Homo sapiens: one gene and its partners. The protein of the gene in region 1 interacts with the protein of each later gene in a pairwise test. Each region holds a gene or a part of one and is shown in the gene's direction. Other genes may lie near its edges.

Region 1 (3,500 bases):
AATTGTTTGAACACTTGCCCCATAGATGATGCTGAATAATCCCCTATTTGCTGGAAATCCTCAGCTTCAAGAACAAATGAGACAACAGCTCCCAACTTTCCTCCAACAAGTGAGTAAGACAAGATGTTAGCTATCTTGGGTAATGATTTGCTTGAAAAAATTTGATGATAAACATTTTTCCTTGCTCTTCTCTGGCTGATAGCAAAACATAGAATAGAGACCAATAATGCTGTCAATTCGTAGAGAATTCAGCTTGATCTTCACTGAGTCCCATTTCACTGCTGACCTTTTGCTTATGTTTCTTAAACATACATTCTGAGGAAAGAACATTTTGTTTTTGCTTTTGAGGACCTAGGATTTTGAATGCTTTGTTAATACCATAAACCATTTCCTTTCATTGTACTAACTTTGAAGTGCTTCCTTGTGTCATGTTACGCTTTATGGTTTAACTAATTTTGAGTAACAGGAAAGAGCTACCCTATTCTATTTTATAGGTTTTCTTCCAAATTAGTAGAAGGCTTTTTTTCCCCAAGGGGTAGATCTCATTTCCTCAAACTCGGGATTAGTAAGATTAAAATAGTCAGTGTTGTCATATAAGGAAGTAAGGAAGGTTATAGTATAAACGAGTACTTGAGATTGCCATGGTATTTTATTATTTAAAACGACAAAAGAGAAGTCAGTCTTGGTGTTTTGAAACTGGTAGTTCTAGGGCCTCATGTATTATGCAAATGACTCTCAGACCTGTAAACCATTTTCCAAGGTTGGTGTCCTTGATCTATTGTAATGATGTAAGCCTATCTTTGGTTAGTCAGGTGGTGTATATTTGGAAGTAGTAAAGCTAAACTCAGGATACATGTATTAACGTCAAATTTGGAACTGTTGTTTTAGAGTGTACCTTACTGGTAAAATTGTTATATTAGTAACAGATAACACTTGGTTAGGTGGAATATGTGGCTTTTTACCATATCCACGTCGTAAGAATTGTGCCTTTGGAGGTTGTGTCTTAGAAGTAATACTTTATCTTCTGTTGGAGAAGGGGAATAGTTGTGGCTTCCAAAGTAGCTCCTGATTTTCTTCCATTATGGAAATGGCTTTCATGATGGACTTAGGAGGAGGTCAAGTAATAATTTGCACACTAGGTTTGCTGTCAAAGAGGAGATACTTGCGTTTATTTTGGGAAAGAAATTATGGATTACCAGTGTCCAGGAGTAAGGTTTTAGATTTTCTCCAGAAGCATAACAGAGAAAAGATTTAAAAATTTACGTTCACTGATTTTAATTCCTTTGTAACCACTAGTTTTCTTTCTTCCTTAGATGCAGAATCCTGATACACTATCAGCAATGTCAAACCCTAGAGCAATGCAGGCCTTGTTACAGATTCAGCAGGGTTTACAGACATTAGCAACGGAAGCCCCGGGCCTCATCCCAGGGTAGGCTTATTTGGGGAAGATAATGAAAGTGTATAATGGTTACTTTCTCTGAGAATTTCAGATTTAGTATTATTCTGCCTGCCTTTTTTTTTTTTTTTTTTTTTTTGGTGGGATACAGGGTCTCGCCCTTCGCCTAGGCTATGAGTGTGGGGGCGCAGTTGTGGCTCACTGCAGCCTCGACCTCTCGGGCTCAAGGGATTCTCTCACCTCAGCCTCCCAAGTAGCTGGGACTACAGGTGTGCACCACCACACCTAGCTAATTTATATATATAATTTGTTGTTGTTACTGTTTTTAGAGATGGAGCTTTGCCATGTTATCCAGGCTGGTCTCAAACTTCTGGGCTCAAGAGATTTGGCCTCCCAAAGTGGGATCAGAGACATGAGCCATAGCACCTGGTTCTCCCCCACCGTTTTTATTTATTTATTTACTTATTTATTTATTAAGAGATCGGTTTTTGCTCTTTTACCCTGGCTGAACTTGAACTTCTAAGCTCAGGTGATCCTCCCACCTCAGCCTCCCCAGTAGTTGGGACACAGTGCCTGGCTATGATTGTTTTTAAGTCAGGGTTTTCAAAGTTAAAAATGATTATTATTATTTTTTAAATTCCTTTTAGAGATAGTCTCACTCCATCGAGCAGACTGGAGTGCAGTGGCGCGATCTCAGCTCACTTCAGCCTCTACCTCCTGGGCTAAAGCAATCCTCTTACCTCAGCCTGCCAAGTAACTGATACTACAGGTGTGCACCAGCACACCCAGCTAATTTTGTTTTTATTTTTTGTAGAGATGAAGTCTCAACAATGTTGCCTAAGCTGATCTCAAATTCCTGGGCTGCTGGGATCATCGGTCTCCCAGAATGAGCCACTGCACCAGGCCAAAAGGGCTTATTTTAAGAAGATGGCTTAGCTTATATTAAAATGTAACTGATTTACGGACTGGCTTCTGGTTTTGCAGGACCTTAGGATATTTCCTATTTGTGCTTTCTGTAGGTTTACTCCTGGCTTGGGGGCATTAGGAAGCACTGGAGGCTCTTCGGGAACTAATGGATCTAACGCCACACCTAGTGAAAACACAAGTCCCACAGCAGGAACCACTGAACCTGGACATCAGCAGTTTATTCAGCAGATGCTGCAGGCTCTTGCTGGAGTAAATCCTCAGGTATCAGTTCTTTTCCATTCAAGTTTTGTATTCCTTAATGTTGGAAATTTAGAAATTTCCAAAAAGAAGGAAAAAGGGAGAAAAAAGGAAAGCAGTAGTTCTTAGGTGTTTAGATTAATGAAAAATACAGTCTTAAGGATATTGAGTAAGAAAACAGGCATTACAAAAATTGTTGACTTTGGTGCTGAGACACTAAAGGAAACGTTGTTACGGTTGTAGAGAAGACATGCTACAACCTAAAGTCTTATTTTTTAGAAATTGCCTTTAAAAATGCATTTTTTTTGTTCCTATTTGAAAATCATTTGAAATAGATTTTGCTTTAAAAAAGTTCTTAGGGAGGAATGGAAACTTGATTATCCCAAGTACCTCCAGGGCAGCTGTATTCTAGTCTGTCTTTTGACTGGAAAAAAGTCCTAACTACCTTAACTCCACCCATGACACCACCTCCTGCGGTAGCTTGTGTTACATATATATATATCTCGTAAATATGGCTAAAGAATATGGACCCCCTAATAATGTGGTTGCATCTACAAACATACATTGGTTTTACTAATAATGTGCCATTATATAAAGATGATCGCCAGTTTAAACCTGTTTTATTAGGTTGTCCCCAAACTTCTTAATGTCTCAAGGTCTGTTAGGTGCTTTCTGTTTTCTTTTCTGGGTTTCTTTTTTCTTTCCCTTTCTCCTTTCCCCTTTCCTTTTCCTCCTTCCTCTTCCCCTTTCCCTTTTCCCTTTCCTCTTCCCCTTCCCCCTTTCCCCTTTTTCCTCTTTCCCCTCTTTGCCTTTCCCTTTTTTTTTTTTCTTTCCCTTTCCCTTTTGACAAAGTGCCCAGGCTGGATGCAATCACAGCTCACTGCGACCTGCACCTCCTGGGCTGCAGCAATCCTCCCACCTTAGCCTCTGGAGTAGCTGG
Region 2 (3,500 bases), on another chromosome or scaffold:
TAATAATTTTGGAGGCTAAATCTGCTTTGCTCTTCAGGTTAATGAAAAGTAGCCTGAATGGAGATAACTTCCGAACACAGAAGCTGTCTTTTATCATTAGAACAGTGGGTCGACATTTTCCTGGACACTTACTGGCATGGGATTTTGTCAAAGAGAACTGGAATAAGCTTGTACAGAAGTAAGTTTCTCAGAGAATTATTAACTTTTAGTATTCTCAAGTTGTGCATTTGAAAAAAGCTCCCAGTGTTTTGGCTCACAGAAGTTAGGATTTGCTGTGAGAGGAAAAATACTTCCATGACAGTTTAACTGAAACATCCGGAAATTTTCACATTTGTTAACATAATTCCATAGCATGAATCATTTAACAGTAGCATTCCATCTAAGTTCTAATTAAGCCTAGCCTTGCTTGGCACCAGGTTACTTAGCTCAGCGTGGCTACAGACTATTTCATAGCAACCATTTAGCTATGCATATTGAAAAATACCTCTGTATGGCCGGGCGCGGTGGCTCACACCTTTAATCCCAGCACTTTGGGAGGCCGAGATGGGCGGATCACGAGGTCAGGAGATCGAGACCATCCTGGCTAACACGGTGAAACCCCATTTCCACTAAAAATACCAAAAATTAGCCGGGCATGGTGGCGGGTGCCTGTAGTCCCAGCTACTTGGGAGGCTGAGGCAAGAGAATGGTGTGAATCTGGGAGGCAGAACTTGCAGTGAGCCGAGATTGTGCCACTGCACTCCAGCCTAGGCAACAGGGCGAGACTCCGTCTCAAAAAAAAAAAACAAAAAGGAAAATACCTCTGCATTGCCAAGGCATCAGTTAAGAACTCACATTCAGCTAGATGCAGATGTAGGTTTTTTGCTTCTTTCTCTCTTTTAAATCAATAATGGCATTTCTGGGTGTACAGTGTGATCTTCGACAATGTTAAGCGGATTAATTGTCTGCATGTTCTGAACTCTTCCCTTTTTCTGCCCACCTTTCCTTCCCACCGACAATAAGTATGCATAGGGCTACCCCGGTTTCCTCAGTTGCAGTTCCGGGAGGAGGATTCCACTCTGGCTTTGGCATTAAAGACTTTTCCTTGCACTCAGGAACAACGCTTTACCAGCAGCTGCCTAATCTTTTTGCTCTTGTTTTTGTGTTTCTTCAGGTTCCCTCTGGGGTCCTATACCATACAAAATATTGTTGCTGGATCAACTTACCTGTTTTCAACAAAGACACATTTATCTGAGGTTGGTTTTATAAAATGATAATACAGAGACTGGGCAACCCTCCGCACACCCGGACCAGGCTGCTCAGTTTTAGTGAGATGGTGGATTTTCATGCTAATTCCTTCTCTTATCTCTGTCTTCCTTTATCAGTACTAATGATTCTGCATTGTGATTACTTCTAGAGGGTGGCATATATGATAATGAGGAAAAAATCTGATTCCATTCTCTTCCCTTGTCTCCCTAATACAAATAATTTAAGTGGTCATAAAATTGTTTGGAAGAATTGCATTCTTGGGGTGAATTCATAGCACCAAGCCTTTGGACTCTACTTTATTTATTGTTACTTAAACATCTCCTTGGTTCCATTTTAAGTTAGAAAAATGTATCTGTGTGGGAGTAAAAAGATTTCCTTTTTAAAATCATTTCAGATATCACCATACTTGATTGGGAACTCCATGTAGATACCTTGAATATTAAAGTACTTCTTTCTACTGCTTTCAAGATAGCAGCACAGCCATCACTAAGTTAAAGCTTATTTTAAAAGCTGGGGTTACCTGAGGTTTATCGTCCTTTTCTTCTTTTGAAATTCTTCTGTGTGAAACTTACAGGTTCAGGCATTCTTTGAAAATCAGTCAGAGGCAACCTTCCGGCTTCGTTGTGTCCAGGAGGCTTTGGAAGTCATTCAGTTGAATATCCAGTGGATGGAGAAGAACCTCAAAAGTCTCACATGGTGGCTGTAGCATGCACAACCGCACCTCATTTTGTTGCCCATTCAGAGAGCTTGTAAGCTTGGGCTCTGCCGCTTTTGCAAAAGCCAAGGTAAAGCCAGGATCGCTGCCAAGTTGTTTGCACTCTTTGGAGTTCTAGTTAGCTCAGGGCCTGACTGTATTTTTCATCCATCTTTTCTGAAGTGTCTTTGGGCAGTATGTAGTTATTTATTACAAAATTATATTCACCTAAATGCCAACCATCTACAAAAACAATGAGTAATTTTTCTACTTTGAAGATACACAGATGGGGACAAAAACCCTGTTTTGGAATTCTGTTCTATTCCTCAGTATCCAGAAAGTTACTGACACAGTAAAACAAGGAAAGTTCTACCCTAAGAGCCGCCATCACTTCAGGCCGCTGGTTTGTCAGCCATCTGTTGCTTCTTATTGATAGATGGCATTGGAATGTGGTACAAAGTTAGCTCTGAAGAATATGGTAACGAAGACAATAAAGCATGCACTGTAAGAACTGACCTCAGGTGTGCAGATCTACTTTGATTTGGGGTTTTGATTAATTCTTTATTTTTCTGAAAAAAAGTTTAAATAATGTCTGTAACTATTGTGTTTTTTTCCTGCCGAATAGCCAGGTGCTACAGATTTTTAAAATTTTTGTTGTATTGAAAAGCTAAACAAGGCCAAAAGGTTAAATTTTTTGAATATTTAAGACTTTCTTTTTCATCTTTTATAGCGTTACCATAGGAAACTGTTCCAAACTGAGTTAGCTTTAATTATAATTATTTTATTCATAAATGGTGATAGTCCCCAGATCTGTACACCTTTATCACTCCCTGCCGTAGATATACTTTAGGTTAGTATTTCTACATTCGTGGCAAGCATTTTGGTAACACCAGTGGTTTTCATTGTGACTTTTATCACTATCACTAAGAATGCAATTTAAGTTGCCTTTTGGCATCATAGATCATAGAAACTTTCTCTCTGAATCATACCCATGTGTGAATTTTCATTTTATATGATAGTGTAGCATATTAGAAGCATATTTTAAAACAGAGCCTTTGAGAAATTGAAAAACAATTATTTGAAGTTCACCATAGTACCTTAAAGGAACAAAGAGAATGTGGGATAGGAGTAACTTGAATTCGTGTTTAGTATGGTGGGCTTTGAATTTTTTTCACTATCAAAAATAGTGCTTTTGTTTAGTTAAAAATTGTAGTTTTTCTTTTTTTGTGTGTCCAAACTAACATAAAAGGAGTGGTCAAAGAAGGAAAGAAGAAAAATGAGGGAGGATGTCCGAAACTGTATGGCATTTTACTCCTTCTGAAAGAGAAATACTGTACTTGAATTTTTGAGCTATGCAGACTTATACCTAGATTGTTGTGTTTCTTTGATTCTTAGGAGAAAAGCTTTCTTCCTAATAATTCTTGAGAACTTTATATTTTGTTTGAAAACAGTTTCTATGTACATAAAAAGGGTATTTACCCATTTGTGAGCACTTAAAACACTCCACAGAGTCAGACAGTGGGAAAGGTCACCCTTTTTTTATTCGGCAGGTATCAAG
Region 3 (3,500 bases), on another chromosome or scaffold:
GAGGAATTAGCACCAATTATAGAGGAGAAAACTGGATCTGACATTTCTCATCTCATTTGCTCTATACATTAACCTCTTGCAAAAAATTTGTGAGTCTTGCCCAAGACCCATTACAACTAATTAACGGCTGAACTGGTCGTCTGATTTCAAGGCCAGAATTAACTTTCTACTGCAGCTCATGGATCAGAGGTTTTCTTTATTTAAACAAACAAACAAAAAATCCTTTGACCGTAGCCCTTGCTATAACGTTTCCCACTGAGTTGAGGGAGAAATTGAAAGTAAACTTAGGAGCTTTTTATAGCTTGTCAAACCATGCAAGAGTGGGGGAAGCTTATCCATCTTGTGGAATTGATAGACCAGGAGGAAGTAACTCCGGCTTAGATAATGCTACCATTTTGAATAAATCAAATGGTCTTCTTTTCCCCTTCATGGTAGTTGCTGCTTAAGTTTCTCTAACATGCCTGCAGTAAGTTTCCATTAAGAATAGGAAATTAGGCTCGGTACAGTGGCTCACGTCTGTAGTCTTAGCACTTTGGGAGACCGAGGAGTGTGGATCACTTGAGGTCAGGAGTTCAAGACCAGCCTGGCCAACATGGTGAAACCCCCATCTCTACTAAAAATACAAAAATTAGCCAGGCATAGTGGCATGCACCTGTAATCCCAGCTACTCGAGAGGCTGAGGCAGGAGAATCACTTGAACCAGGGAGATGGAGGTTGCAGTGAGCCAAGATCATGCCACTGCACTCCAGCCTGGGCGATAGACTGAGACTCTGTCTCAAAAAAAAAAAAAAAAAAAAAAAAAAAAAGAAAAAGAAAAGAAAAGAAAAAAAAAAGAAATTAGTATATTGTGATTATGTTGAGGGAAAAGTTAGTACCATAATATAAAAAGGTATGGACTATTGGAGAAAGTTGTTTGCTTTGGTAACATTTACTCATAGAAAGTATTTTGGTAAAGCAGGACTCAGGGTGGTGGGGGAGGTGGGCAGTGAGGGATAGGATTCAAATAAAAACCATTCTTTCCCTTGGAATCCACTACACAATTAACCAACAAATCCCATAAGTGGACCTTTTAGGAAGATAACATTTCTATCCATGAGCATAGCCACTATAATCACAAGACATTTATCTCAAGCAAGATAGAGTCAAGATACTCTCACAACCTCAGGGGCTGGAACTGTAAATTTTCACATCCTGCCAACACCCTTGAATAGCTATGTCAAGAATTTAGTGTCTGTAACTTGTTCTTTATTTTAAAGTACATTTAACATCATCGGCCCCAAATTAGATAGGCTTTTGGAGTGGGATCCCTTCTACTTTTGATTTCTTTATAAAATTTTAAAATAGCTTTGTTGAGATAGTGTTCACATACCATACAGTTCACCCATTAAAAGTGTTCAATTCAGTGATTAGGCCAGGTGTGGTGGCTCATGCCTGTAATCCCAGCATTTTGGGAGGCCAAGGCAAGTGGATCACTTGAGGTCAAGAGTTTGAGACTAGCCTGGCCAACATGGTGAGAACTTGTCTCTACTAAAAATACAAAAATTAACTGGGCATGGTGGTGTGCACCTGTAATTCCAGCTACTTGGGAGGCTGAGGCAGGAGAATCACTTGAACCTGGGAGGTGGAGGTTGCAGTGAGCTGAGATTGCACCACTGCACTCCAGCCTGGATGACGGAGCAAGACTCTGTCTCCAAAAAAAAAAAAAAAAAAGTGTTCAATGTTTTTTAGTATATTCACAGAGTCATGCAACCATCACTATAATTGCTTCTAGAACATTTTCATCATCCCCCAAAAGAAAGCCTTCGTTACGAATTTTAATTAGCTGAGATTCTGAACTCTGGGGGAATTTTGTATTCTAGAAATATTTTTTACTAATATGCTACAGTTGTATTTGTCATGCTGGTGAAAAGATGTGGTCTTTCACCTGGATGCTTTCTCATTAAGCATTATTTTTCTGTTTAGCTTCCTGTGTGAGCAAACATTTTCTCAGCTTGATACTCAGTGCATCAGCGGCTTGCAGAAGAGACTGCCTAGGCCTGCTCTGTCCAGTACGGTAGCCACAAGTCACTTGTGGCTACTGAACACTTGAAATGTGGCAAGGCCAAATTGGGACAGGCTGTGAATGCAAAATATACAAGATTTGGAACCCTTAGTATGAAGAAAAGAATGCAAAATATCCCAGTAATAACTTTTACATTGATGATATGTTAAAGGACAATATTTGAATATGTTAGGTTAAATAAAATTAATTTCACCTGTTTCTTTTTACTTTTAAAAATATGGCCGCTGGAACATTTAAAACTCCCTATGTGGTTTGCTTTGTGTTTCTATTGGACAAAGTTGGTCTAGACAGTACAAGGTGTGAAGACACCGCCCTCTGCTGGAGAAGATGCTGGATTTTTATTTCACCTACAGGAAGAGACGTCTAAGTAGCAATTAGATGCTAAACTAATGCTGCCTCAGGAAAGAATCAAAAGAGAAAGAGTGAAACCAGGCCGGGCGCGGTGGCTCACGCCTATAATCTCAGCACTTTGGGAGGCCAAGGCGAGGGGATCACGAGGTCAGGAGATCGAGACCTTCCTGGCTAACCCCGTCTCTATTAAAACTACAAAAAATTAGCCGGGCATGGTGGCACGTGCCTGTAATTCCAGCTAGTCGGGAGGCTGAGGCAGGAGAATAGCTTAAACCCAGGTGGCGGAGGGTGCAGTGAGCTGAGATGTGCCACAGCACTCCAGCCTGGGCAACAGAGCCAGACTCTATCTCAAAATAAGGAAAAATAAAAAAGAAAAGAAAGAAAGTCCATAAATTGAGACTCCTAGAGATACTAAATGGTAGAATGGGAATTTGAATTTAAATTTATAAGATGTTCACTCTCGGAGATCATAGGTCATTGTTGTCCTCCTCCTTTTCATGACAGGAACTAGCAATGAAGAGCTCTGACTATGTGCTAGGTACTACTCTGAGAACCTAACATTTGTATCTCCTTATTAACTCTATTACTGCCCCATCCTACAGATGAGAAAATTGAGGCACAGGAAGTTTAAGTTGGCCAAGATCACACAGCCAGTAAGGGGCAGACATTGAAAGGTCATTTTGCCTGCCTTATCCCCAGCCTCCAGGCAGTGGCAGAGTTAGCTCATTTTGGACAAACAGCTCTCCCAGACCAGACATTGTAAGCTATACTCAGGAATCATAGGAAAGATTATGATAGAATAATATATAGTTACAAAGAAAAGAAAGAAAATCCAATGGGAGAATATTTACTGTTTTCTATATTAAAGTGTTTAATGTTTATGTTTTTAGAGGAATATTGTTTATTATAGCAATTTAGAAAACAAAATGAGAAAAAAAATCACCAAAGATTCTACCTCCAGTTATTTTTGTGTATTTCCTTCCATTTTTCCCCCCATGTCTGTTTATATAATTGAAACTATTATTCATGCAAAGAGGTATTCTGATTTTCTCAGTTATTTTTATTTATTTTTAATTTTGTAAATAAA
Region 4 (3,500 bases), on another chromosome or scaffold:
ATGGTCGGTGCTCTGTAACTTGCCACTTTTATTCCTAAAATTGTTTTATTTCATATCCCAAAAGCCAACTGAGCCATCCAGGTTTTAATACACAGACGTTTTCTGTTTCAGGCTCCAGCCCAGTCATTCATTTTACTCCCTCTGATTTGGAGGTGAGACGGTCTTCAAAAGAGAACTGTGCCAAAAACCTCTTTTCCACACGTGGGAAACCAAACTTTACTCGACACCCATCTCTTATCAAATTGGTAAAGAGTATAGAAAGTGATCGGAGAAAGATAAATTCTGCGCCCAGTAGCCCTATCAAGACCAACAAAGGTATGTTTTCAGGAATGTCAGGGATCTGCTAGGAAGAATTCCCTTTTATCTCATTTTTTCAGCTTACTTGATCCTTGCAATAGTTGTCAGAGAATTATTTCAATATCTATATACCCAAACCCTCTTGAAGCCTAACTAATGTATAAATTTAAAAAGTCATTTGTGGGGTTTATTGTTTAATCGCTATGCAACTTTGAGGGGAGGTGCACACTTTCTGTTCCTCTGACTTCAGTGAGGTTTCATCTGTGTGAACATTTGTTCTTTAGCTTTGACCGGTGCTCTCTTCCTTTCTATTTTACCAGCTGAGAGTTCTCAGAATTCTGCACCCTTCCCAAGTAAAATGGCTCAGCTCGCAGCTATTTGTAAAATGCAGTTAGAAGAGCAATCAAGGTAGGTTGGCAATCCTCTTTAATAACAGGATGAATTACTTTTACATTACATTGTTAGGATTACTTATTTTATGTGAGAAGAAGCCCTAGCCTTGAACTGGAGAGCTAATCTTTTCTGTATCTCATACTCACTCATTACAGAAATTATCTGCATGTTCCATAAAAGCGTGGCTTCAATATGAGGCTTAAAGCGGTAGAACAGTTCAGAAAAAATGTATATCCATCATGTCGTGTATTAAATCTTGTCTTTCAGTGAATCCAGACAGAAAGTGAAAGTACAGCTGGCAAGATCTGGACCCTGCAAACCAGTAGCCCCTCTGGACCCCCCAGTGAATGCTGAGATGGAGCTGACAGCACCGTCCCTCATCCAGCCCCTGGGAATGGTTCCCCTGATCCCCAGCCCCTTGTCATCAGCAGTGCCCCTGATCCTACCTCAGGCCCCTTCAGGCCCATCCTATGCCATCTACCTGCAGCCCACTCAAGCCCACCAAAGTGTGACGCCACCCCAAGGCCTGAGCCCAACGGTGTGCACCACCCACTCTTCTAAAGCTACTGGCTCAAAAGACTCCACAGATGCCACCACTGAGAAGGCAGCCAATGATACCTCAAAGGCCAGTGCCTCTACCAGGCCTGGAAGCTTGCTGCCAGCACCAGAGAGGCAAGGGGCAAAGAGCCGAACCAGGGAGCCAGCTGGAGAAAGAGGCTCAAAGAGGGCAAGCATGCTCGAGGACAGTGGTTCCAAAAAGAAATTTAAAGAGGACCTAAAAGGACTTGAAAATGTCTCCGCAGTAAGTACAGCCTTGAACTGCACAAAGCTTTAGGAATTCCCTAGTCTATTACAGGAAGATTGGTGGCTTGTGAAATTTACCGAAGAGCATTCTCTCAGAAGACAAGGAACTGTTCCTTAGCATCCCATAATCCAAGTGAGGCCCTCAACAGCTAATCCCCTGGCTGGGATGAAGGCAGGGACATTTTTAACCTTTGGAGGAAGGGATTATTTGCTGTCTTTTTAAAGTACCATGGGTGGTTGTCCTTAAGTCCATTTCTCCATCACACACTGGAATGCAAACAGCTGTCATGAAAGTCTTAAATAATTTACAAGCAGACGTAACCCCAAATGAACGTGTGGATGCATAGGGTTCCTGTAACTCCTGCTTTCTGAGTCATTACCTAATGTTTGTTTGTTGTCATGTAACTGGCATCTGTTGCCTAGAAGATAAATTGCTCCCCGTTTTTACTTTCTACCTAAAATTTAAATCAAAATTTCTATTTCATGTAAATAGAAAAATCAAACTGATCTTGGCAAATTGTAGATATAGTTCATGTATTGGTTTCTAGAGATTTTGACATGCTAGACAAATTTTTTTCCTAAGTGGAGATTAGTTCCGGAGGGAATTAATATTTATTGGATGCCTACCCACATATAGCAGACATAATAGATATTAGTCACTTTTACATACAGTATCTCATTTTCCTCCCTTAGGACAATTATATATGAGAGACATTACTGTATCATCCGATAAATACCACTAAATGTGCAAGTAAAAGTTAATCTCTCATTTTGCCCCTGCTCTTAATACAAGCTATTTTACTTCTCTCTGTCTTATTTTTCCGCATCGGTAAAGAATTTATTCCACCAGTTTTTCCTCATCACCTACTGGATATAAAGCACTGTGCTCTGGATCAAATCTAACCCAGCACCTGCCTTTGGTGGCAATTGCTTTTGGGTACTTGCCTGTGGGCATATGATAGTTTTTGTGGGGTTAAGTGAATTTATTCCATGATGATACACATAAAAGGGTTTGATCCTTTTAAGACGTGTTATAAGCTGAAAGGTATTATCTGTTACGTTGTTATTAAAGAGGAAGCTTAGAGTTTGTCAAATCTTCCCTGAGGATGGCCTCATGGTAACCATTCAAAACATCTATTATCTTACATAGTATCCTTTTGTATTTAATGTATATGCCAAGTGGGAAATCATAAGGTTTCAATATTCTGGAAGGTCCATAACTTCTTTTGGCCAATGGGTATGATTTAATAATGGTCTCCTGTTGCTTACATAGTTATTCAGGATTAGGATTTTCAGTGGATAGATTTTCCATATACTCCTGCTTCTTTTTTATATCTCTGCAACTCTAACCATTTCTTTTTTCTTTTGAGACAGGGTCTTACTCTGTCACCCAGAATGGAGTGCAGTGGCATGATTTTAGCTCACTGCAGCCTCGACCTCCAAGGCTTAAGTGATCCTCCCACCTCAGTCTCCCAAGTAACTTAGACTACAGGTGTGCTGCCATGCCCGGCTAATTTTTTATTTTTTGTGGAGACGGGGTTTCACCATGTTGCTCAGCCTGGTCTCGAACTCCTGAGCTCAAGCAGTCTGCCTGCCTTGGCTTCCCAAAGTGCTGAGATCACAGGCATTTGCCGTCATGCCCAGCCCACTTTAACCATTTCGTTTTAGTATGGCCTGAGCAAAACAAAGACAATGAGAGAGTCATGTGTTAATTCATTCAACAAATTTTTACTGAGAATTTATACTTCTAGGGGTGGAAAGAAGATAAGTATGCAAGTAAACACAAACATATCAGGTAGTGAATGATAGGAATGAAGATGACATGATAGGAGGAAGGGGTGGAAGGGCTACTGTAGGCTAGAAGAGTTCAAGTTCAAATATGTCAGATTCATTCGGCAATTTAATAGTTCTAATTATTTTATAAAAAAGGGAATTGGCATAGGTTAAAAGATTCTATAATGAATATAGTTTGTTGGAAATTTAAAAATTATTATTCTATTATTGTG

What was found.
Region 2: the proteins of UBQLN1 (region 1) and LNPEP interact in binary tests that used the Homo sapiens proteins (3 or more experiments, as listed by UniProt).
Region 3: the proteins of UBQLN1 (region 1) and SRGN interact in binary tests that used the Homo sapiens proteins (3 or more experiments, as listed by UniProt).
Region 4: the proteins of UBQLN1 (region 1) and E2F8 interact in binary tests that used the Homo sapiens proteins (3 or more experiments, as listed by UniProt).

Annotation. Positions count from the first base shown.
Region 1 is NC_000009.12:83,662,959-83,666,458, reverse strand, and holds part of UBQLN1 (ubiquilin-1), read left to right. Parts: intron 1-25; coding exon 26-109; intron 110-1,313; coding exon 1,314-1,429; intron 1,430-2,415; coding exon 2,416-2,584; intron 2,585-3,500. UniProt on the Homo sapiens protein: Plays an important role in the regulation of different protein degradation mechanisms and pathways including ubiquitin-proteasome system (UPS), autophagy and endoplasmic reticulum-associated protein degradation (ERAD) pathway.
Region 2 is NC_000005.10:97,026,580-97,030,079, forward strand, and holds part of LNPEP (leucyl-cystinyl aminopeptidase), read left to right. Parts: intron 1-37; coding exon 38-178; intron 179-1,153; coding exon 1,154-1,235; intron 1,236-1,822; coding exon 1,823-1,954; 3' UTR 1,955-3,500. UniProt on the Homo sapiens protein: Release of an N-terminal amino acid, cleaves before cysteine, leucine as well as other amino acids. Degrades peptide hormones such as oxytocin, vasopressin and angiotensin III, and plays a role in maintaining homeostasis during pregnancy.
Region 3 is NC_000010.11:69,091,103-69,094,602, forward strand, and holds part of SRGN (serglycin isoform 1 precursor), read left to right. Parts: intron 1-3,500. UniProt on the Homo sapiens protein: Plays a role in formation of mast cell secretory granules and mediates storage of various compounds in secretory vesicles. Required for storage of some proteases in both connective tissue and mucosal mast cells and for storage of granzyme B in T-lymphocytes.
Region 4 is NC_000011.10:19,227,446-19,230,945, reverse strand, and holds part of E2F8 (transcription factor E2F8), read left to right. Parts: intron 1-111; coding exon 112-315; intron 316-617; coding exon 618-705; intron 706-957; coding exon 958-1,492; intron 1,493-3,500. UniProt on the Homo sapiens protein: Atypical E2F transcription factor that participates in various processes such as angiogenesis and polyploidization of specialized cells.